Linked DNA regions of Homo sapiens: region 2 is linked to region 1. The links come from fine-mapping of genetic effects on plasma protein levels. Region 1 holds a variant in brackets. A gene starts in the other region. All regions are shown on their forward strands.

Region 1 (7,100 bases):
GCTAATTTTTTGTATTTTTTTAAGCAGAGACGGGATTTCATCGTGTTAGCCAGGATGGTCTCGATCTCCTGAACTTGTGATCCGCCCGCCTCGGCCTCCCAAAGTGCTGGGATTACAGGCGTGAGCCACCGCGCCCAGCCCAAATTGGGTCATTCTTGTCATATCCAACTAAATCAGAGTTGAGAGGTCAGAAAAAAATGCACTTAGGGCACATAGCACTTACTCCAAGAAATAAATTATCTGTGTGTAGTGGCTCACGCCTATAATCCCAGTGCTTTGAGAGGCCAAGGTTTGGGAGGATTGCTTGAGACCAGGAATTTGAGACCAGCCTGGGCAGGATAGGGAGACCCTGTCTCTGCAAAATAAACAAATTAATTTAAAAAAAAAAAAAGAGAGAAAAAGAGGCTGCACCATGGTGGCTCAAGTCTGTAATCCCAGCACTTTGGGAGACTGAGGCGAGTGGATCATTTGAGGTCAGGAGTTCAAGACCAGCCTGGCCAAAATGGTGAAATCCCATCTCCATTAAAAATGCAAAAATGAGCTGGGCATGATGATGGTGGGCGCCTGTAATCCCAGCTACTTGAGAGACTGAGGCAGGAGAATTGCTTGAACCCAGGAGGCAGACATTGCCGTGAGCCGAGATCGCGCCACTGCACTCCAGCCTGAACAACAGAGCAAGACTCCATCTCAAAGAAAAAAAAAAAAAAAAGAGGCTGGGCGCGGTGGCTCATACCTGTAATCCCAGCACTTTGGGAGGCCAAGGCAGGCAGACCACAAGGTCAAGAGATCGACACCATCCTGGCCAACATGGTGAAACCCCGTCTCCACTAAAAATACAAAAAAAAAAAAAAAATTAGCTGGGCGTGGTGGTGCACACCTGTAGTCCCAGCTACTCGGGAGGCTGAGGCAGGAGAATCATTTTAACCCGGAAGGTGGAAGTTGCAGTGAGCTGAGATCACACCACTGCACTCCAGCCTGGTGACAGAGCAAGACTTCCTAAAAAAAAAAAAAAGAAAAGAAAAATAAATTTTCTGTGAGGCCAGCTGCTGAAACGTCCTGCTGTAACCCTAAGACCAGTTGGACCTAGTAGCTGCTGAAGTGACCTGCCATCACTCTAAGACTAGTTTAATCTACTGTTGTCACTCACCAATCTGAGCTTGCTAGCTCCCAAAAGTGTCTCTAGCACCAGTGAGCTTCTTTCAAAACAATTCATAATATTTCTCTTGCTCATAAAATTCCCAAACTTCACTTAATTCTTCTGACATACTGAAGACTACCCAGTCTATGTGGATGCCTCATATTGCAATTCTTGCTTCCCAAATAAAACCTGTTATTTTATCTATATTTTTATTTTTTGAGACAGAGTCTCACTTTGTCACCCAGGTTGGAGTGCAGTGGTGCGATCTCAGCTCACTGCAACCTTGGCCTCCAGGGTCAAGTGATTCTCCTGCCTCAGCCTCCCAAGTATCTGGGAGTACAGGTGTCCATCACCACACCCAGCTAATTTTTATATTTTTAGTAGAGATGAGGTTTCACCATATTGGCCAGGCTGATCTTGAACTCTTGACCTCAAGTGATCTGCCTACCTTGGCCTCCCAAAGTGCTGGGATTACAGGCCTGAGCCACTGCACCCAGTCCCCAAATAAAACATTTTACATTTAGAGATTCATTTCTATATTTTATTTGACTTTGACAATTGATATACAAAATTTAACATGGTTAGGAAAATCCAGACCATATAGAATTTCCTTAGAATAAATAACCCAGTGTTTTCAACAACTAAATGGCAAATAAAAAAAAAGATATAGAGGGGAAATGTATATATGAGAAGACATCACACAATCTGAGTACGTGGATTCACTGGGCCTGAATTTTTTGTTTTGTTTTTGTTTTTGAGATGGAGTCTCACTCTTGTTGCCCAGGCTGGAGTGCAATGGTGTGATCTGGGCTCACTGCCACCTCCGCCCCTCGAGTTCAAGCAATCCTCCTGCCTCAGCCTCCCAAGTAGCTGAGACTCCAGGTGCATGCCACCAGGCCCAGCTAATTTTTTTGTGTGTTTTTAGTAGAGATGGGGTTTCAATATGTTGGCCAGGCTGGTCTCGAACTCTTGACCTCAGATGATCTGCCCGCCTTGGCCCCCCAAAGTGCTGGAATTACAGGCGTGAGCCACTGTGCCCAGCCCTGTTAATTTTTTATGTGTGATAATATTGTTATTACATTTAAAGTATGATCTACAGACCCTGGGGTCTCCAAGCCCTTTTCTGGGGATCCAGGAGGTGAATCTTTTTTTTTTTTTTTTTTTTTTGAGACATAGTCTCACTCTATTGCCCAGGCTCGAATGCAGTGGCATGATCACAGCTCACTGCAGCGTCAACCTCCTGGGCTCAAGTGAACCTCCCACCTCAGCTTCCAGAGTAGCTGGAACTACAGGTGCATGCCACTGCGCCCACCTAATTTTTGTTTATTTTTTTGGTAGAGATGGTTTTGCCATGTTCCCCAGGCTTGTCTCAAACTCCTGGGCTCAAGGGATCTGCCTGCCTTGGCCTCCCAAAGTGCTGGGATTACAGGCATGAGCCACTGCACCGGCCACCAGTGGTGATATTAATGTAGTTGTTTGATACTGTATAATAAAAGGTGTCAACATTTAGAACCTCTGCATGAGCTGGCCAGGTCAGCAATGTGTTTCTCAGAAACACCCGCTACACTTTCTCTTTATTTTTCAGGGAAAATTAATAGAGGACAATGTGGTTGTGAATTTTAGAAGGTCTTGAAAAGTACAGCCCACACACGTGGTGCTTACTCAGTGCTGTTACACATAAGGCGGTAAGGGGAATTTATCTTGTGTGTATGTGTGTGTGGGGGGAGTTCTCCATTCTCTTCGTATAGTTCAGTGTTTAGTCTTTTTAAAATATGCATAGTTTTTTACAAAAATAGGATTACGCTGCACATATTCTTGTGTGATCAGTATTATTTCATTTCTCAATGAAATAACCCCCACGTGGGTAATACACATTATCCTTTTTAGTGTTTCCCCAAATTCTCCTTACATATCACCACAATTTATTTTACGTTTACCTACTAAAAGATTTTTAGATCCTTCCCAAGGTTTTGCAAATATAAATGGCAATGTGAGGAACATTCTTGTATATACATCTTTCCATAAGATTATAGGTTATGGTAATTTATAATTTTTAAATGTTGGTATAATAAGATCTTCAGAAAAATTTGATGTGTACACTCACATCACAATGTTGTATATCCATCACCACTTTCTCCTTCCAGAACTTTCTCATTATCCCAAACAGAAACGCTATACCGTTTAAGCACTAACTCCCCATCCCTTTTTATTCCAGTCCCTGGTAACTCTGTTTTACTTTCTGTCTTTATAAATTTGCCTATCCTAGGTACGTCATATAAATGGAATCATACAGTATTTGTCCTTTTGTGTCTGCCTTCTTTCTTTTTTTCTTTTCTTTTCTTTTAAGAAACAGAGTCTCATTCTACTACCCAGGCTGGAGTGCAGTCGTGCAATCATAGGTCACTGCAGCCTCGAACTCCTGGGTCAAGTGATCTTCCTGCCTCGGCCTCCTGAGTAGCTGGGGCCACAGGCACATGCCACTACCTCCAGCTTGGCTTATTTCACTTAGTGTATTTTCAAGTTTTAATCACGTTGTAGCGTGTACCAGAACGTCATTCTTTGATATGGCTGAATAATATTCCACTGTATCCATTCATCAGCTAATGGACACTTGGATTGTCTCCACCTTTGGATATTGTGAATAATGCTGCTATGAACATTGGTGTAAACACCTTTCTATGAACCTGTTTGAGGATATTGTTTTAATTAAAAGCAAGCTGCTACCACTACATACCTATTAGAATGGCCAAAATTCAAGACACTGACAACAAATGCTGGTGAGAAATTGGAGCAACAGGAATTCTTATTCATTGTTGGTGGGTGCAAAATGATGCAGCCACTTTGGAAGACAGTGTTGGCAGTCTCTTACAAAACTAATGATATGGACAGGAGGCAGGAGGGCGGGATTCCTGGTGAGGGTTCTTACCCTCAAGCTTGGACCCATGGCCCTAAATGAGAACAGGCATTCCTGTTTTCACGCCTGTACGTTGCCTTTTCCAAGACCATTGTGGCCCACCCTGCTCTCTATCCTGTGCCCATAAGAACCCCAAATCCCAGGCTCCACAAACAGAAGAGCAGCAGAGGGGCAGAGGGGCAGAGCTGCAGAGCAAGGTGGTGGAGAAGGAGAAAAGAGAAGAAGCAATTGAGCATTGAAGAGGTAGCTGGATGGTCAGAGAGGAATTTGGCCAGGGACAGCAGAACTCCAGGGGACGATTATCTTCCCACGCCATCCCCTTTCCAGCTCCCCATCCTGCTGAGAGCCACCTCCCTCACTCAATAAAACCTCTGCATTTACCATTCTTCAAGTCCATGTGACCTGATCCTTTCTGGATGCTGGACAAGGACCTGGGTATTAAGAGGGCAGGGTGTAAAAGGCTGTCACCCTCACTCTCCACTGAGCTGGTTAACGCTTAGCTGTCCATGGATGGCAACTGCTAGAAGAGCATTAATTGTAACACACCCCTAGATGCTACCATGGGGCCAGAGCCCAAAGGTGCTCACCCTGGCCCTGGCACCCACTTGCCTCTGTGCTCCCCCTCCCATAAGGGGTTTTAGCACAGTGGCTGAGTAAGCTAGCCACGACAAGTCCCGCGAAGGGGTCCAGGGAACTCTCCTGTCTCATTAACATACTGTTACCACACAATCCAGCAACCATGCTAATTTTTTTTTTTTTTTTTGGAGACGGGGTCTCGCTCTGTCGCCCAGGCTGGAGTTCATTGGTGC[A/G]ATCTCGGCTCACTGCAAGCTCCGCCTCCCAGGTTCACGCCATTCTCCTGGCTCAGCCTCCCAAGTAGCCGAGGCTACAGGTGCCCGCCACCACGCCCGGCTAATTTTTATTTTTGTATTTTTATTAGAGACAGGGTTTCGCTGTGTTAGCCAGGATGGTCTCGATCTCCTGACCTCGTGATCCGCCCGCCTCGGCCTCCCAAAGTGCTGGGATTACAGGCGTGAGCCACTGCACCCGGCCGCAACCATACGATTTACCCAAATGAACTGGAAACTTATATCCTCACAAAACCTGAACACAGATGTTTAGAGCAGCTTTATTCATAGTTGCCAAAACTTAGAAGCAACCAATGTATCTTCAGTAGGTGAATGGATTTAAAACACTGGTACATGCAGACAGTAGAATATTATGCAGCACTAAAACGAACTGAGGCTGGGCACAGTGGCTCATCCCTATAATCCCCGCACTTTGGGAGGCCAAGGCAGGAGGATTTCTTGATCCCAGGAGTTTGAGACGAGCCTGGGCAACATGGCAAAATGCCATCTCTACAAAAAATACAAAAAATTACCCAGGCATGGCTGTGTATGCCTGTAGTTTTAGCTACTTGGGAGGCTGAACTGGGAGGGTCACTTGAGCCCAGGAAGTGGAGGCTGCAGTGAGCCATGATCGCACCACTGCACTCCAACCTGGGTGACAGAGTGAGACCCTGTGTCAAAAAAAAAAAAAAAAAAAAAAAGCCAGGGTAACTTGAGGGAAACATGAGGGAAACTTAAATGTATATTACTAAATGAAAGAAGCCAATCTGAAAAAGCAACATATGTATGATTCCACCTATATGACAACCTGCAAAAGGCAAAACTATGGAGACAGTAAAAATATCAGAGATTTCCAGGGGTTGTGGGATGGATGAATAAATGGAGCACAGATGATTTTTTGGGGGGCAGTGAAACTATTCTGTACGATACTGTAATGGTTACAGGCATTTGTCAAGACCCATAGAATGTACAACATCAAGTGAACACTAATGTAAGCTATGGACTTTGGGTGCCAATGATTTTGTTTTTTAATTTATACTTTTTGAGACAGGGTCACCCAAGCTGGAGTGCAGTGGCACAATCTTGGCTCACTGAAACCTCAGCCTCCCAGGCTCAAGTGATCCTCCCACCTCAGCCTCCCGAGTAGCTGGGACTACAGGTGCGTGCCACCATGCCCGGCTAATTTTTGTATTTTTTTTTTTTTTTTAAGAGATGAGGTTTCACCATTTTGGCCAGGCTGGTTTCAAATTCCTCGGCTCAAGCAATCTGCTTGCCTCAGGCTCCCAAAGTGCTAGGATTACAGGTGTGAGCCACTGAGCCTGGCCAGGTGCTGATATTTAACTGTAGGTTCACCAATTGTAACAAATACACTGTTCTGGTGTGGGATATCAACTTTGGGGAGGTTGTGTGTGCTGGGGGGACATGGGTTATATGGGAATTCAATGTATTTTCTGCTCAAATTTTGCTGTGAACCTAAAACTGTTCTAAAGGATGAAAGGAACTGAGGGTGAAGGGAAATGGGAAGATGGTGGTCAAGGGGTACAAAGTCTCAGTTATGCAAGATGAGTAGTTCTGGGGAGATGCACAGCTATGTGACGATAGTTGACAATATTGTGTACTTGAAATTTGCTAAGAAGATAGATCTTAAGTGTTCTCATCAGACAAATAACTATGTGAGGTGATGCACATGTTAATTAGCTTGATTATGGTGAATATTTCACAAATGTAGATATCAAGTTGTACATCTTAAATATATAGATCTCAACAAATATATATACCTCAACAAAGTGGCCTGGGAAAAAAGGGAAAAAAGCTAGTTGCAGCACATGATACCTTTATGGCCAGTTTTGTAACAACAACAAAAAAATCAAAGTGCGAACTTAATGTTATACGCAGTTAATCTTTAGAAAGTGAGATTATGGATACTTTATTTTGTACATATATTCTAATTAAATACAGTTATAGATTATTTGTGTAATGTTTAAAAGCCAAGTTGTTGTATTTAAGGGGGAGGTGGTGAATTGTAGTTCACGACCCACTCTGGGAAAAAAGAAAACAGTGCAGGCTAAGGAGATTATTTTGGTCGGCTCATCAGACCGCCTAACAAGGCGAAGACTTTCCTGAGAGTCCCTAAAGCCGCGGCCCCGGAGGCTTGTGGGAAATGTAGTCCCGAACGTGGATGGTCCACCCCTCCGAGGACCCT
Region 2 (16,484 bases), not on the chromosome of region 1:
TTGGCCTCCCAAAGTGCTGGGATTACAGGTGTGAGCCACCGCACCTAGCCACAATAAGCAATATCTTAATCAATTTTTAAATTCACGAATTCAGCTCTTACTGTGCCTGATGTGTAATTTTATACTTTTTTCAGTTCTTTCTTTTAAAATTCAATTTCTTCTTTGCCATATTGCTCTTTAGAAATATGTGGCATAAGGCTTAAAACCATAGCAATGCAAAAAACTATTTTTGGAACTCATTTAATTTTGTGTTTGCTGGAATTTATATTTCTATGGAAACAAAAATGAACCCAAAACTACACAATAGATAAGACTGTTTCAAACAAAGAACAAAGCCCCATCCCTGAGGGCTCTTATAGGCTATAAGCCCCAGGAACAGAGGACAACACACAGCAACCCGAGTAGGAAGGAGGTCCTAGGCCAGGGGCGGGGGAGCCGCTAACAAGATGGCTTCTTGGAATAGGTGGGTTTTCTGGATGGTTTTGAAGAGAGGAATGCAAAGGACCACCCATTGATGGTATGCTGTCCTATATGTCAAAGTTGATGAGGAAAAAAGTCATAAGGACTAGTGTGGGCAATAAGACAAAGGAAGTAGTTATGAGGAACATTTAAAGGGAGTGGATGGAAGGGCCCACATGGACAGAGCCGGAGGCCTTGGGAGGTGGCGAGGGCTTGCACTCAGGCAGGGAAGCAGGCTGCAAGGAGAACAGTGTCAAAGCCTGACGGGAGGCCATGTTCAATGACAGACTGGGGGCATGCTTGAGTTTCAATGAAAAGGATAAATAGGGAAAGGGTCTCATGACAGCAAAAGAAGATGCAGTCAGAATTTCATTAATGGATTCATATATATGGCATATATTCACATATACTATATATGCAAAACCAGAATGCTAGAATGGAATCACCAATTTTTCAAGGAGTATAAGGTTTATGCTGTGAGAAGGGGACAGAAAACATGTGAGGGATGGACAAATATCACAGCACATGGAATGACAGCAAAGCACTCGGTAGGCAAGGGGAACAAACCCTGTGACAAAAAAATTCAACTTAAAATGGTAGCAAAATGGCCACTATAAAATCTAAAACAGAAAAATAAGGCCCTAAACAGAGGAAGTCTTGAAAAAATGGAAAGTGATCATAATTAATAGATTAAGAAAGCATAGGATTCTAAAGATGATATAGACATCATCACATTGATCTCTTCTTGGTATGTGAGGGAGGGAATACCTTAAATTTATGTTTTTTAAAAATCGTTCAGAAAAAAAGACAAATTTGTCACAACCCTTATTTCCATAAAGGCTTTTTAAATACTTAACATCAAAGGCAATAGAGGGAAAAAATTGTCTTTAATTTTCACATATCCTCTCTTACTCTTCTACAGGACCAAGTAATATATCCAGGACTTTGGAATGAATTTGTTTGTTTGGTTTCAATACTATTATGTAAATTATAATAAAAATAGCAATAAAAATATATTACATGTCTTCTTCAATTTGGAGTCATTAAGTCTCTTTTGAGTAATTCAGAACTAAAATGTTTCTATGGGGTTCTTACATGATAATTCCTACTAGAGGCATCAAGGAATTTGCAATGATTTGTTTTGTCTTTGCTCCTGAAGAATCTATTCATTCTGTATACTCGTGTCCATTAAATTCAACTAAAGTCTATTCTACAATAAAAGGGAGTAAACTTCTGATACAGAAAAAAACCCTGATGAGTTTGAAAATCATTATACTGGGTACAAGAAGCCTGACACAAAAATAATACATACTATTTGAGTTTGTATAAAATTCTAGAAAGTATACACTAATCTAGAGTCACAAAAGTAAGATCAGTAGCTCAGGAGCAAATGGGGTCTTACAAAGAGATATGAGGCAATTTGGGGAGGTGATGGAAATGTTCTCTATCCTAATTGTGTTGGTAGTTTCATAGGTGTGTACCTATGTCAAAAGCTCATGGAATTGTGCCCTTTAAGTTAATGCAGTTGTGTACTTAAATCATACCTAATTAACTTATTTAAAAAGTCAACTACATAATTATTTTAAAATAAAAAGTTTAAAAATTCAACTAAAGATGTAATAGAAAGGGATTAGATAAAGAATTTTTCCAATGGTCTCATCAAGAGTCAAGTTCTGGGCCCGGCGCGATGGCTCACACCTGTAATCCCAACACTTTGGGAGGCCGAGGCGGGCAGATCACCTGAGGTCAGGAGTTTGAGAACAGCCTGGCCATCTCTACTCAAAAATACAAAAAAATGAGCCGGGCATGGTGGCAGGCGCCTGTAATGCCAGCTACTTGAGAAACTAAGGCAGGAGAATCGCTTGAACCCGGGAGGCAGAGTTTGCAGTGAACCAAGATCGTGCCACTGCACTCCAGCCTGGGTGACAGGAGCAAAACTCTGTCTCAAAAAAAAAAAAAAAAAGAGTCAAGTTCTGCCTTCTAGATGGTGGCAATTTGTAACATTGAAAGTTGGTATACCATTCTTTGAAGAGCCTAATAAGCACTTTGGATCCTGTAAGTGTTTGGAAAGCAGCACCTCCTTCTAAAAAGTGGTTTATTCATGGAGCTTCCATCTGAACAAACAAGCTGAAATCACAGATGCTAAACAAACAAGCTGAAGTCGCCGGATGCTAAGGAAGAGCAGTATTCAGTCATTTTCTGTTTGCCCAGGAACAGACAAACAATTTTGCTTCCAGTCTACTGCCAAGAGCCTGTGTTCTCAGTGAAGCAGGTGCTCTCAGCGAGGGTGTATCTGGTGGGAATATGAACAACCTGAGCCTACACCTGTGGCCAAACAAGGAGCTGCCTGTCCCGCATCTTCTATGGTCAGCTCTTATCCATCTTAAGGTGAAGATGAATAAGTAACAACAGCCCACTCATGACCACATCACCAGGATTCTCTCCCACACGGGCTGGAGCCCTCTGTTTTATGTTCAGTGGTGAGGACCCCTTAAGTCATGGCACAGGCAGGGCTAAGTGTTAGCCAGGAACCACTACAAATTTCCCTTTCATGCAAAAGAGCTGCTCAGAATGAGTACTTACCTTGAGCACCACAGGACTGGGCCCATCAGCTCTATCTCTGATCTAGGCATAACTCTCCCATTTACCCCGAATCCCCAAGGAAAAAAAGGCTAGAAACAATAGTAACTTTGGAGGAGGGCTGCTACCAAACTGTTTCAGAGCAGTTCTGATTGAGAAAATATTTTTTTAAAAAGCAGTTACTATTTCCTCTCTCAATATGCCTTTATAGGGTTAAGCATGCAAACTGTGAGGTCTTCACCGGCCTTAAATTTTCAACTACAAAATGGGTATAATAACATTACCTACATCATAAGATTGTGGCAAACATTGAATAAAATAAAATATATAAAGTGTTCAGGAAAATGCCTAATACAGAGAGAGTACTCAATACCTAAGAGCTATTATTTAGGTAAGAAAACCTCAGATCTTATGCTGAAAGCAACAGAGAGTAAAAAGATAAGAGTAATGTTGAGAAAAAGATCGAGGGATAAGACAAAAGGAGCAAAACAATCTCTGAAATAGAGCCTGAGTTTTCTGTGCAAGCTGTAGAAAACAGCCATATGAAACGCTCAGTACATAAAGGACACCTTTGCCTTCCTTTCTCAGGAAATCAAAGAAATCCAAGTTTTTAAGAAAATCAGTTTTTAACACTCAGCCAATCAACCAATTTATCTCTAGGCGTTTTCTCCTTGAGAAATATTGTGAAGAGGGATTTCCTTTTGATTGTGGTGCCGTGTGTTTTACAAAGCAGCAAGGAAAGGCTTTTATACACAGCTGAGCAACAAACAAAGAAAAGCTGACCAGACCTATCAAGTGGGACTCATTGATTTGATGGGAGAAACTGTTGCTTGACTGCAGGTTGCAGATGATTTTAAATTGGATGGGCTTGAGAACATCTAAGAAAGAAGGAGGTAATTTTAAAAATTGGAAGTCTATGAACTTTGAGTAGCATAATGTAACAATAGGTGAGACAGAGTCAAAAATACTCAGTCCTTTAGAAGAGTAAGAGAGAATATGTCAAGATTATGTCAAAAATACCTGTACAGATGTGGAATGGGAAAAGACCAACTTGGTACAAATATAGCCTAACACCTCAAGTTGAGCACAACCTGAATATAAGTCAGCAATGTTCATGATTGTAGGCTGTATAAACAGGAGCTTAAGGTATATGATTGGAAAATAACCCCTTCCAAAATCCTCAGCATCAGCTAGCAATAAAGTTAAAAATGCAATTCCAGGGAATTAGCCTGGAACTTTTCCAGATTGTCTGGAGTAAACTGCCAAGAAAGTGGAGTGACACTTCAGAAAGATTCTTCTTTCTGTTTTCAGTGTTAACTCTCATTTTCTCCATCTTTTTGACCCAGTATCTCTTCTTATGGGATTTACAACAAATATGTCAATATTATGATGATAACTGTATAATCAACCCATTAGGTACCTACCAGACGATCTTGAATTTTATCTACAAGGGTTGGATCACTCAACAGTAAAGTGGGTTCACTGGATGAATCCCCAGAAATCAAACGAAGTTTGGCTTCATTGACTACCGTAGAAAGTGCAATGGTGATAAATGATATTCCTGAAATTCTGGCATCTTCAGAAATACTTTGAACATCTGGATTCTTTGGATGGTCGATGCCATCAGTCATCAGCAAAACCACTTTCACACCATCCTTACGCCCTTCTCTCTTAAGTAGCCTAGTGGCATTGGAAATGGCATAATAAGAGAAGGTACCTTGCCCTATTAAATTCATAGACTTGACCTTCTGCTTAAATGTCTGCAGGTCCTTCCAGGAAGAAAAAGGTGGATCAATTTGGACAGAGCTGCTAAACTGAAGGGCTGCCAGTTTGATGTCATATTCCAAGGAGCGACCAGGAGTCAATTGGAAAATCTTGTCACTCAAGCTATCCACAAAATCTTTCTGTTTATCAAAGAGGGCAATTTTAGAACTTTCAGAGCTGTCCACGATGAAGACAATATCTATGAAACAAATGGAGCCTGAAACAGAATAAACAGGTTAGGCAAAATAATTATTCCTATCATGAAACAAATTTGCATACGGAAAGCCCTGAAGTGGTGTGTTGTATATTGTTTGGTGTTGAGAGCAGCGTGAGGAGAGAAAGAGAGACACGTTGGACAGAAGGCTTCAATTGTAAAAAACTAAATGTCTAAGTTTATGAATTATTTTCTCCTTGTAAAATCATGCAAATTAAAAATAAATAAGATATCTTTTATTCTGAGCATCTTTTCAATGTTAAACCTGCTGAAAGTGGGAGGAAATGGGAAGTCAAGATGCATCACATTTTAAAAATCCAACTAACACTGAGCATAGTTGTCTAGAAGTAAATGATACTCTAATTCTCAGGTTGTGTCATATTGGTGAGTCCCTATTTTTTTTTAAACTTTCTTGAAATCAAGGGAGAAAATGACTATACCCCCTATACCAAGAGTAAGTGGAGAAGAAACCTAACTTAAACACAACTTAAGTTTAAATCCCAGCTCTGTGTCTCAGTGGTTAATTTGCCTATGGCCTTGAGTATGCCACTCGACCTGTTAAGACCTCAATTTTTTTAATCTACACTATGAGTGGCAATCTCCGTCCTGCCTATTTTACAAGGTTACTGTGAGGCTCAAATGAGATAATAAGTGCACAAGTGCTCTTATTAAAGACTCTGATGTGCTATAAGTATGTAAGGTATATTATCATCATATAATTTTATCAAAGTAGACTATCACATGTATACATGTATATGGCTTGCTATTTATATCAAATGCTATTTAGAAAAATTCACATAAGTATTTTTAACAGGCTAAACTTAAAAACAAACAATTTTTTTTTTTTTACCCTGGACATCACTTTTCCTTGCAAGCAAATTTGATTTTGGTCCTTTCTTTCTTTGTCCGGATACTGTTTGACTCGTAAACGCTGACAAAAGCAGGAGATAGAAGACAAAATATCTGTTCCACATTATGGTAGATGGTGAAAAATCATCTGTCTTGTAGCACCTTTAATAGAAAAGTCAGTTACAAATACTTTAATAAAATATGGTGTTTGTTATTTTTAAATTTCAAGCCAGCAGGGTTGAAAACTGGCATGTGACTGGAAAAAAGAGGTTTTCATTCATATTTCTAGAAAAATATTCACATTGAGATTTTGAAAGATTTCAATCCAAATAAATCATGGCACCATGACCAAACATTTATTAGTGAATATTTCTATATATTCAAAGAACTATATTTAAGTATTCTTAATTCCGCATTGTATTTTGAGGAGCATAGAGTTGGGAGAGCCATTTAAAAACATTTCAATCCCGCTCTATATGATTACTGTGGTTCAATCACAGGGTCTGCTTTGACATTTCCAAATTCTTCAGGGGGAATTCAGATTGCTATATGGTCATTTCATTCACTTTCATTATAACTGATTCCTGACAAATCTAGTATTTTGTAGAACTGTAGACAACCACCACCCTTTCAGGCTTAATACTACACACATAACTTCAGTGAGTTCAGAGGTCAAGGTAAAAATTAAACGACCCTTCTGTTTCCATAGAACCCCATCTCTCTTTTCTACCCTAGCTTTGGAAACTTTGTCTCCACCAGGGGTTCAAAGCTGCATATGCAATGAATCAAAAGAGTATGAGAGCAAAAATAATAGATTTGCTTAAAAGCAACACTCTTCTTCCAGTGATGGCTAAAAGAACTAATGGACAGAAACGGGACTTAAAGCCAAGAAGCACCCCCTCTGAATAGCCCCGTGAAACTATTTTTCTGGGTGGATTAACAACGAAAAATCTAATTCTGTATTAAAATCCTCAATCTTCATCAGTCAATATGCCTAGCTACACACCAACTGACTCTTAAACTGACAGATTTCCCTGGGAGGAGAAGACTCATGTGTTGCTGCCTCAGTATACCCAAGAGAATGGGAACGAGAAAGCTTATTTCGAATCAATACTTAGTATGGCTTAAAAATGCTTGCCTGCTGAAACTTTATTGACTTCAGGAGTTCTGGAAAAGGAATCACATTTTCCTTCTTTGGCACCTTGCCTTTAGGGGATAAGAATCTGGGAAATCATGAGCACGATTTTTCCAGACTCTGAGTAGAGAGTGGAAATATATGCAAAGGCAGTGAGGAGTGAGATGGAGACTGACTTTTTTCATACATGCCAGATGGATAAACCCCAAAGGGAAACAAAACTGTTGGGTTAGGAGAGGACCAATGGATGGCTTCATGCCACAGTCTGCTCCTCACATAGCATCATCCAGCTGGAAGTGTATTAAAAGAACTTTGGATAGGTATGACCAAACATCTTGTGTAGCAATTGGCCAAATGCCAACTGATCCTCAGACAAGGTATACTAAAATGTAAAGACAGCTGGGTATTAAAAACAAAACAAAACCAAGAAATGTGCTAAGGAAACAGAACACACAAAGGCCATCTCTCCTCAAGTTGTCCCTTTGCTAACCAAGGAAAAAAATAAATGATGTACAACTTTAAGTCTGAAGGTTAGTGTAAAGATAAGGCTATGTGAAAAACACAGTTGTTATTGCATTTTCAAAGGGGAAAGGGAATAACACCATGGCCATGGTATTACATATGACTTTTCTCTTTGGTTGAGTTCATACCATAAGGAACATCTCAGAAGTTCTGGAAATAAGAGGCTGAGAACTGAATTCCATTGAGAACTGAGCAAGATTTTATAAGCAACATAATCAAGCAACTCTTCAAAACCCTTCATGTAAGGTTTTAGAAATACTGGCTTTAAATAAAGATTTATCTTTTCCCAAAACTAAGCACCTGCTCTTACTGTTTTCTTGGCATATAATCATGAATTTGTACCTGATCCCTGTATATATGATATTCACAAACATAACTTTTCCATTGACAATAATCCCAGTATCTCATATTTTGTTCTTATTTGCTCTGACATTGTTAATCTAGCTCTCCCAAACCAAAGTCTTGTTATTTCTTTCTGTTTCCCTATTGTAGCCAGAGGACATTTTCATACCTCTCTAGATTTGTTTCTCTAGCTTGTTAGTTCTACTGCTTCCCTGAAATATCTTTCTCGTTTATTAATTTGGCATCTTGAGAGCCCACTCATTTCTAATCACTTTTTACCATGTTTTATTTTGCCTCTGTTTTTAATAATTCTCACCTTTCTCTCTTTCTGATGTCACGTACAAGCAAAATAGGTTTCAGAGGAAACAGTGCCATTAGTTAAGTGAAAGAAATGTGAACCTCTGTGTTTACTATAGGTTACATTTTATAAATGCAGAAACAATCATAATTATTAATCAAATACCGTAGTTTTACTTTTGGCCTAAAATTTATTTGGGGTAAATATCAGGATCAGTAAATAAATCCAAGATACTTTATTTTTTATAATTTTTCAAAAATAAAATGATCTTATATCAGAGTTCACCAACTTTAGTTACAATGTTTGCATCTCAGTTTCTACACAAATAGAAAATGATTGAATAAAGACTTTATTCAAATTGACAAATTAGCCAAGTTGTAAAGTATTCTATAACTAATTCTGAATTGTAAACCCTGTTCCAAATTAAGAAAAAGATGTCCTAAAATATATTAACATCGTTGTAAAACAATTTAGAAGACTGTAAATTAAAAATCCATTTCAAAATAATTTTAAGTTTTAAATTTCTACATTTTAACAATGTTAATATTTTTCTAATAATTGATTTGAAGTAATTGCAGAGAATACAAACTATTGACAAGCTTTCTCACCTAATAATTATGTAAGTAAGTCATTTAGTCTTCCACAGTTCCTTGATGGTCCTATCTGATTTCAAGTGACTAAAATAAATCTGTTATGTCTTACCTTATAAAGTTTGTCAAACAGGAATTAAAGACTAGTTGAGTAAATGCCAACAGCAAGGACTGTGGTTGGGGGTGAAGTTAGCTATTTGATATTGTTCTGTTCTGTGGGAAATAAAAGTGTCTTTGCTTTAGGATCTTTTGCAGTCTTTTGTTCATGTTTATTCGACTAAGTCAAAGCAAGAGTGGTCAGGCATTTGGCCAGGGTGCAAGATCTGGGTGGGATCAGTAAGCAATTTAAAGGAACAGTGTCCTTTCAGAATGAGACTGTGTTTTCCAGACTATTGTAAAAACAACTTGAGAGAACTTTCTACATTTTAGGCATTGGTTGACAGCCTGCCTTTTTTTCTCATGCTATGTCCTTCTCTTTTTATTGCTACATTTCTTTGCCTGGGGGATGTGCTCTAAGATACTGGTTCTGAACATCTCTGTGAAGGAGTATAAATGACACCAGACTCAGAATCAAAGCTGTTTTTTTAAGAGAGGTAACAGTTTGATTGTTATTAAAGCTGGATGATGAGTACATAGGTGTGCATTGTTCTAGTCTTTGTATTTCTGTGATTTTTGAAATTTTTTATAATAAAAGGTATATATAATATACAGGGAAAGAGTGGTCTGAGTATAGTCATAGTTCTGCCCCTAACTTTTATGGGGGCTTCAGTTCCCCACTTATGAAATGAGAGAGTAGATTTAATCATTTATTAAGATGTGTTCGAACTGTAACATGAGAGGTTTACAGCGGTTAATATTTTGGTCTCTCTCTAGGAAAGGATCACTGTGGTTTTTCCACTCCCTGTTTCCCTATTTTCTACCTTGTGGTTATGGTCCATATTAAGTCAATGTTTATCATGTAATATATACTGCCAAGAAGCCACCTGACCCCTAGACAGCTAACAGGCAGGCTTCTCCACGGACTTCCTCTGAAATAGAGAATAGCAAGATCATCCGAGAAAGCAATACAAATGTGCATGTTACGGTTATTTAAAATGAACTTTCTTAGCCATTTTAATGTGTATGAATTTCCTTATTACAGCAATAATAGCCTCCAATTCATGGACACTTACCAGGTGCTAGGCACTGTCCTGAGTGCTTCACACACATTACCTCATTTAATCCTTCACAAGCACAACCACCTATATACAGTAAGTCCTCACTTAATGTCCTCTGTAGGTTCTGGAAACTGTGACATAAAGTGAAACAATTGATAATGAAGACAATTTTCCCAAGAGCTAATTGATATAAATAAGAGTTAAGCTCTTATGGCATATTCCTAGTCACAAAAACATCACTAAACCTCTAAATACTCAAAACACCTCTAATAATAAACATTGAAATAAATCTAAGCTATATATACATTTATGAAAGATTGATAAAAACAAGATAACTGCTTACCTGCATATTCCAGTTCAGGGTCACGGTTGACCAGATCCTGTCCCAGCAGCTGAGGATACAAGGCAGGAACCAGCCCTGGACAGGATGCAGTACTGTCAAAGGGCACTCATACACCCACCCACTCTCTCAGACAGGCACCATGTAGACACACCAATGCATCTAATGGGCAAAGCTTTGGGATGTGGGAGGAAACTCCAGGACCTGGAGAAAACCCACACAGACATGGGGAAAACATGTCAACTCCACACAGTGAGCCTGGCCCAGGAATTGAATTTTTTTTCTCATCAATGTTATAACAAAATGACATTGAACAAAATATTATTCCAGGACCCCTTGTACTTAGTAGATGTTGTAAGAATTCGAATTTTTCCAAGATGGAGGCAGAGAGAGGTTCAGTAACTTGTCCGCTGTCATACTAAAACCAGAGAATGGCAAAATGAACTTTTAACTCAGGCTGGTAAGACCTGTGAGCCTCACTTATAACAACTACTGCATCATTAAGTATCTATGCGAACGTCTGTGTTTTCACTGTCTCCTCCTCACAAAACAGGTTTCGAGGAACTGAGGAAGTTTTGTGAGGCTTTGGTAACAGAAAGAAGAAACGGTGGGTATAATGCAGAAATAACAACGGAATTTCCTAGGGAACAACCATGTATTTACCTGATAGCCTATGGGTGTTAGTCACACTTTTTACTTTTGTAAGATGAGAATCAAGAGACAAGGAAGTAGCATCTTTTCAGGTCAACTCTCTTTTTGCTGAGGCAGGTTAAAAACATGCAGAATAATAATGCCACTAAGAAGCAAACAGGTGATTCCTAGATGGGGGAAATGGACTAAAGCCCTCCTGCCTTGGAGCTGTTTTGATTAAAGTTGGTGGGAGGTTGGAGTCCAACTTAGTCATCCATTCCCTTTCATTCTCCAACATTAAATAGGGTAACTCAAACCAAAGATTTGCCACCTCTCATTCTCAAGCGTGAAAATCAGCACTAAATTAATTGGGAAGATTATGCAAAATAAAATCTTCAGTTTCATCAATCTATAAAAGACAATTAGTTTTGCACCCAGAGAAACAATGCACCACAATCTTAATCCCAACAGATGGTCTTGAATTAGTATGCTATTGGACTTACACCAGAACAAATAAGAGAGCATGGATAACCATAATGACTAGAAAAAGGCAACGTGGAGCCCATGCCCTTCTGACAGTTATTTTGTAGTAAAAGTCTTTATGGAAGAAATATAGCACACTATTTTCATTGTTACTACTATAAATAGCCCAGAGTAAGCAGTCATATTTGTGAAATAAATGATTATTAGAAGTAATTTTTAGTGTTTATCAGTCACTTGAGGTCTGTGATACAATAAATTGCTCTTCTCCAAAGCTCTGCTAGATGAAAATCTTTTTTCAACTTTTTCAAATTCTTTTAATATGCTACCATAGTAGCATCTGCATTGTGTTTATTGATTCTAGTACCAGTGCCAACATCTTAATTTCAGTGGTGATGATATTTTGGGGTCCTAGAATCATTTAAAAAGAGACAAGTCTGCTAGGACTTACATATTTCAGAGAATTGTATCTGCATGAAGTCATAGAAATACACACAAAAAAAGGCTGGTAACAAATCAAAGTTATATATTTTGACCAAGATTAAGGCATAGTATAGTTTCACAAGCTTCTCCCTATTTTAGCCACCTCCCACACTGCTGATCTAGAGTAGAAAAAAAAAAACATTACCAACTAACAAGGAAGAAATTAATGACCTTCGTACCTGATTTGAAGAAATTTGTTCTTGAAGATCCTTTCCTTTCTTTCTTTCTTTTTTTCTTTTTCTTTCTTTCTTTCTCTTTCTTCTTTTTGTCAGTAGAAAAGCTTGATATAGTAGAATTTCTAACACCTGCCCCAAAGCTCTGAAATTTCTGGGATTCATTATCCTTGGACCCAGAATATGACCTAGGCATTCTCTCAACTCCTTCATCAGTAATTAGAGGAACACTGTCTTAGTCCATTTTGTGTTGCTATAAAGGAATACCTAAGGCTGAGTAATCTATAAAGAAAAGAGGTTTATTTGGCTTACAATTCTGCAGTCTATGCAAGAAGCATGACACCAGCATCTGCTTCTGGTGAGGGCCATTGACTGCTTCTACTCATGGCAGAAGGTGAAAGGGGACCAGCGTGTGCAGATCATATGGTAAGAGGGAGCAAGAGAGCAGGGAGAGAGGTGTCAGACTCTTTTAAAGAATCAGCTCCCCCAGGAACTAATACAGAGAGAACACACTCATTACCGCAAGGATGGCATTAAGTCATTCATAAGGGATCCACCCACATGACCCAAACGTTTCCCATCAGGCCCCACTTCCAACAGTGGGGATGAAATTTCAACACGAGGTTTGGAGGGGGCAAATATGCAAACCATGGCAAACACCAAAACTGTATTGGTCTTATTTGTCAACAAAGGGAAAGATTAAAAGCATTCAAAGACAATAAGAAAATAAAAATTATCATTGGTAATAAAATACAGGATGTGGCATTGCTTAAATGTGGAACAGCGTGACTTCAGTTCCTATGCCCTCACCAAATTCTGATTGAGTTGATCCTTCCACATTCCCTCTACTATTTTTCAATTGTTACTATTATTTAATAAACTTTATGGTTTAGAGCAGTTTCGGGGTACAGCAACACGGACTCAATTATCTTTTATATCGTTTACTCCCTAAGATCTCTTGCTTCATTATTTGTCATTCAATCCCCAGCTTGAATAATTGTGTCACATTTGCAACACACAGTGCCTCATAGGCTACAGTGACAGGCTAAATTCCCGTTATACCAATCTTATGACTATTAATCTCTTTCTCTAAAATATTTTTTCAATATTAATATTTCTTCTTTCCATGTTGTTTATTCCTGACTAAATGCAATTATTTTAGACCAAAAATAAATCAAGGTGCCATCTGGAAAGTTTTACAATTTTTTTTCTAAGAAATATCTGAAAGTAGATTGATCTAGTCCTATCATAGGTTTGAATGTTCAATATTTTTCTTTAATTATTTTCTTTGGTCAATGGATAGAGCAGTTTTAACTTTTTCATGCAGAGCCTACAAATAGAGAAAGATCAGATCTATTTATACCTTGACTAAACTCTGCTTTAAATGGCAAAATATTTCTATTTTTCACTTAGTTCATTTTACTTTCAGATATTAGACAGTGTTATTCTAGATCTTGGTGAATTATTTGATAACCACTGATTGGTATTTAAACTTTTCTTGTATTGGGGACAAACAATAGTGTTAAATCTCTGAACTGGAAGGAAACTTAGAAACCACTTTTATTTAATTCTGCCATTTCACAGTTGATAAAATAGAGGACAGATATTAAGACCCACCCAAAGGTCAAATCATTAATCAGTGAGGGACTAAAATTTAGGTCTTTGTGCATCAAAGTGGCCATCTTTCATTATCTCTAAATGCCCTAGAAAATTTTTAGGCCTTTGCGCTATCCAGGCTTGTGCTTGAGCAGGAGAAAAAGGAAGCTGTATGGCTAATAATTTATATTTATAAGGATTTAACTTTAGTGGCAAATGGCTCAGAACAAATCATCATGGGCTAAGTCCCAGCACATTAAAGAGTCTCACCTCTCACTGTGTAAATCTTAGTGCCTGGGCCATTAAAGGCAATGAACACCACCTCTTCGAACCCTGGGTTGAAAAACTTTCTCCTCCAGGTTTGGACAGGTTTATCTGAGTAGCTGGGGATTGTTACAGCTACTTCAATAACTGATCCCTAATCAAAACATAGCCAGTAATATAGGTAGATATCATCATTTGCATGAATATTAAGTTGTAGAAACACAATACCTACTTGGGTTTTCTGGTCAGTGTATTGAGATTTAATAAGAATATCCAAAAAAAGTTTTAAAATAACTCTTCTAAATTTCTGGAATAAAAGTGTTTTAAGAGCATTAAGTAACTTATTATCCCATGTTATATTAAGCCGTTACAATGCTGGTTTACACAACATTGTTCCCAGTTAAGGTAATAGGGTCATCTGTTTTTTTCATTGCATCTAAATTATATAGTTCCTCCTGCACAACAGTTTGTTTCTCCTTCTGCCCTTAGAAATTCTATACTAAGGGTAAATTATTCATGGACAAAATTTATAGAAAAGGGGACTTGAGGTGAATTTTTTTTTTCCTATTTGGGGATATGAACAACCTTTTAATAATACTAAATTCTACACAGAAATAAAGTACCTATTATCATTATTCATTGTTTATATCCAGAACTATAGATTTTGAAATCACATATATAATGTTATTTAATGTTGAGTAACTTTTACTTAATTATATATTTTCTGTTATTCTAATTGACCAAATTCAGAAATGCCAAATACTAACACAATTTAGTCAGGACTCTGCATGGGTCTTCAGGAAGTGTTGTTTGAAAAAAGATATTTGGGCACCACCTTGTGGGACTTTGTAGAAAGACATAGTGTGAGAGTTTGTCAACTATTGTTAACAGATGAAAAATTTTAATCGTCTGTGATGCTGAACGGGTGGAATAAAAGTTGCTTTCTACAGCTTTTTTGGGCAGAAGAATGAGGAGACGAACGAAAGAGTGATAAAACTACTCTTATATAGGATCAAGAAGCTCTCTAAGTAACATCTGATGAAATCCATAACTCATTCACTTAACTAACATCAACTTAGTTTCTACTATATGTGAGGCACTGGATAGAAAACAGATAGATGCAGTCACTTCAACCCAGTGAAGAAAATAAGCAAGTAAAGAGCAATGGCAAGTTTTACCCAAAAAAAAAAAAAATTAAGTAATCACATATCTAACTCTAGTTGACAATACCATGCTGCAGGGTTTGGGAACAAAATTTACCAGTGTCTGCAACTTACTTTGAAATGCATCATAAAGAAAGAAGATGGGGCTGGGTGCGGTGGCTCACGCCTGTAATCCCAGCACTTTGGGAGGCCGAGGCGGGCAGATCACAAGGTCAGGAGATCAAGGCCATCCTGGCCAACATAGTGAAACCCCGTCTCTACTAAAAATACAAAAATTAGCTGGGCGTGGTGGTGCATGCCTGTAATCCCAGCCACTCAGGAGGCTGAGGCAGGAGAATTGCTTGAACCAGTGCGCTGAGATGGCACCACTGCACTCCGGCCTGGCCACAGAGTGAGATCCCATCTAAAAAAAGAAAGAAAAAGAGAAGAAAAGAGACGGGTAGAAGAATGGGTAGATGGGTAGATTATGCAATAGAGCAAATATGTTCATTGTAAATACAATTGTGAAATCTGGGTGGCAGGTAATGGGTTTGCTGTATAATTCTGTTAACTTTTCTGTATGTTTGACAATTTTCATAACAAAATATTAGGCCAAAAAGAGCAAGAGCAATATAGTGTGATAACATCTATAAAAGAGACTTACACAGAGGGCACCCAGGTCAGACTGTGATATGGAAGTTGGAAGTGCAGGAGCAGAGGATAAACAGTGGTTTCTTTTATGCCATGTTAAAGGGTTTAAACTTTATCTTGAAAGCAACGGGAGCCACTGAACAATTTTAAGCAGGGTTGTGACATGATCACACTTTCATGCTAGGAAAATCACTCTGATTGCTGTGTGAATAATGGCAGGAAAACAAGCTTGGAGGCTGAGATCTACTAGGAAACTTACTATGACACCAATGAGAGATAAGGCTCTCAAGTACCAGCAATGAGAATGCAAAGTGAAGAAGTCTAAGAAATATTAAGAAGCAGAATCAAAGAGCTTAGTACCTAATTGGCCTAGGAAAGTGGAAGAAATGAAGGAGAAAGATGGTACCCAGCAGTCTGCCAAAAAGTATTTAATAACTGTCTCTCTGGGGAAAAAAGTGTATTGTACACATATACATACGTAAGTTTATCAGAAATGTTATTGATAAAGAACGTATGGTATAAAATTTTCAAATAATAATAAAATACACAATATTCTCTATTATAAATTCTATATAGCAAACTGATTCATACAGATTGCTTTCATTGATTTTTGGCCAAATTCTTATATCTTTAGCCAATCTATGGTTGTAATTGATGAATGAGTATAGTTCCAACAAGAATGTTGGTTGGCATTTTCCTCTTCTTGAACAAGTAAGACAAAAATGAAACAAAGAAAAAGGTGCATGTGCATTGAAACTTCATTTGTTTGTCAATGATATAAGCAACTTTGTAGCTGAATAATATAATACTTTTCA

Direction of the effects. Positions count from the first base shown, and alleles are read on the strand shown. Strength reflects both the effect of a copy and how common the allele is.
As copies of A replace G in region 1, the plasma level of the protein whose gene starts at base 8,989 in region 2 goes up (weak association).

The links. PIP is the posterior inclusion probability: the model's chance that the variant is causal. Protein levels are from antibody-based Olink assays in UK Biobank. Linkage for the fine-mapping came from a reference panel and not from the study's own genotypes, which makes the PIPs less certain.
Region 2: COL28A1 starts here. The variant in region 1 is fine-mapped to the plasma level of the COL28A1 protein (UK Biobank, PIP 0.93).

Annotation. Positions count from the first base shown.
Region 1 is chr16:75,141,365-75,148,464 of GRCh38, forward strand. It overlaps a transcript of ZFP1 not described here. Among named protein-coding and RNA genes, the nearest start is that of ZFP1, 3.6 kb to the right of the region's middle. RefSeq lists an enhancer at 6,971-7,020. The variant A/G (reference allele first, on the strand shown) is at 4,862.
Region 2 is chr7:7,526,885-7,543,368 of GRCh38, forward strand. It overlaps COL28A1 (collagen type XXVIII alpha 1 chain), which reads right to left and starts at 8,989. Exons shown (of 35, transcript NM_001037763.3): 1 at 8,866-8,989; 2 at 5,868-6,028; 3 at 4,464-5,020. The coding sequence starts at 5,991.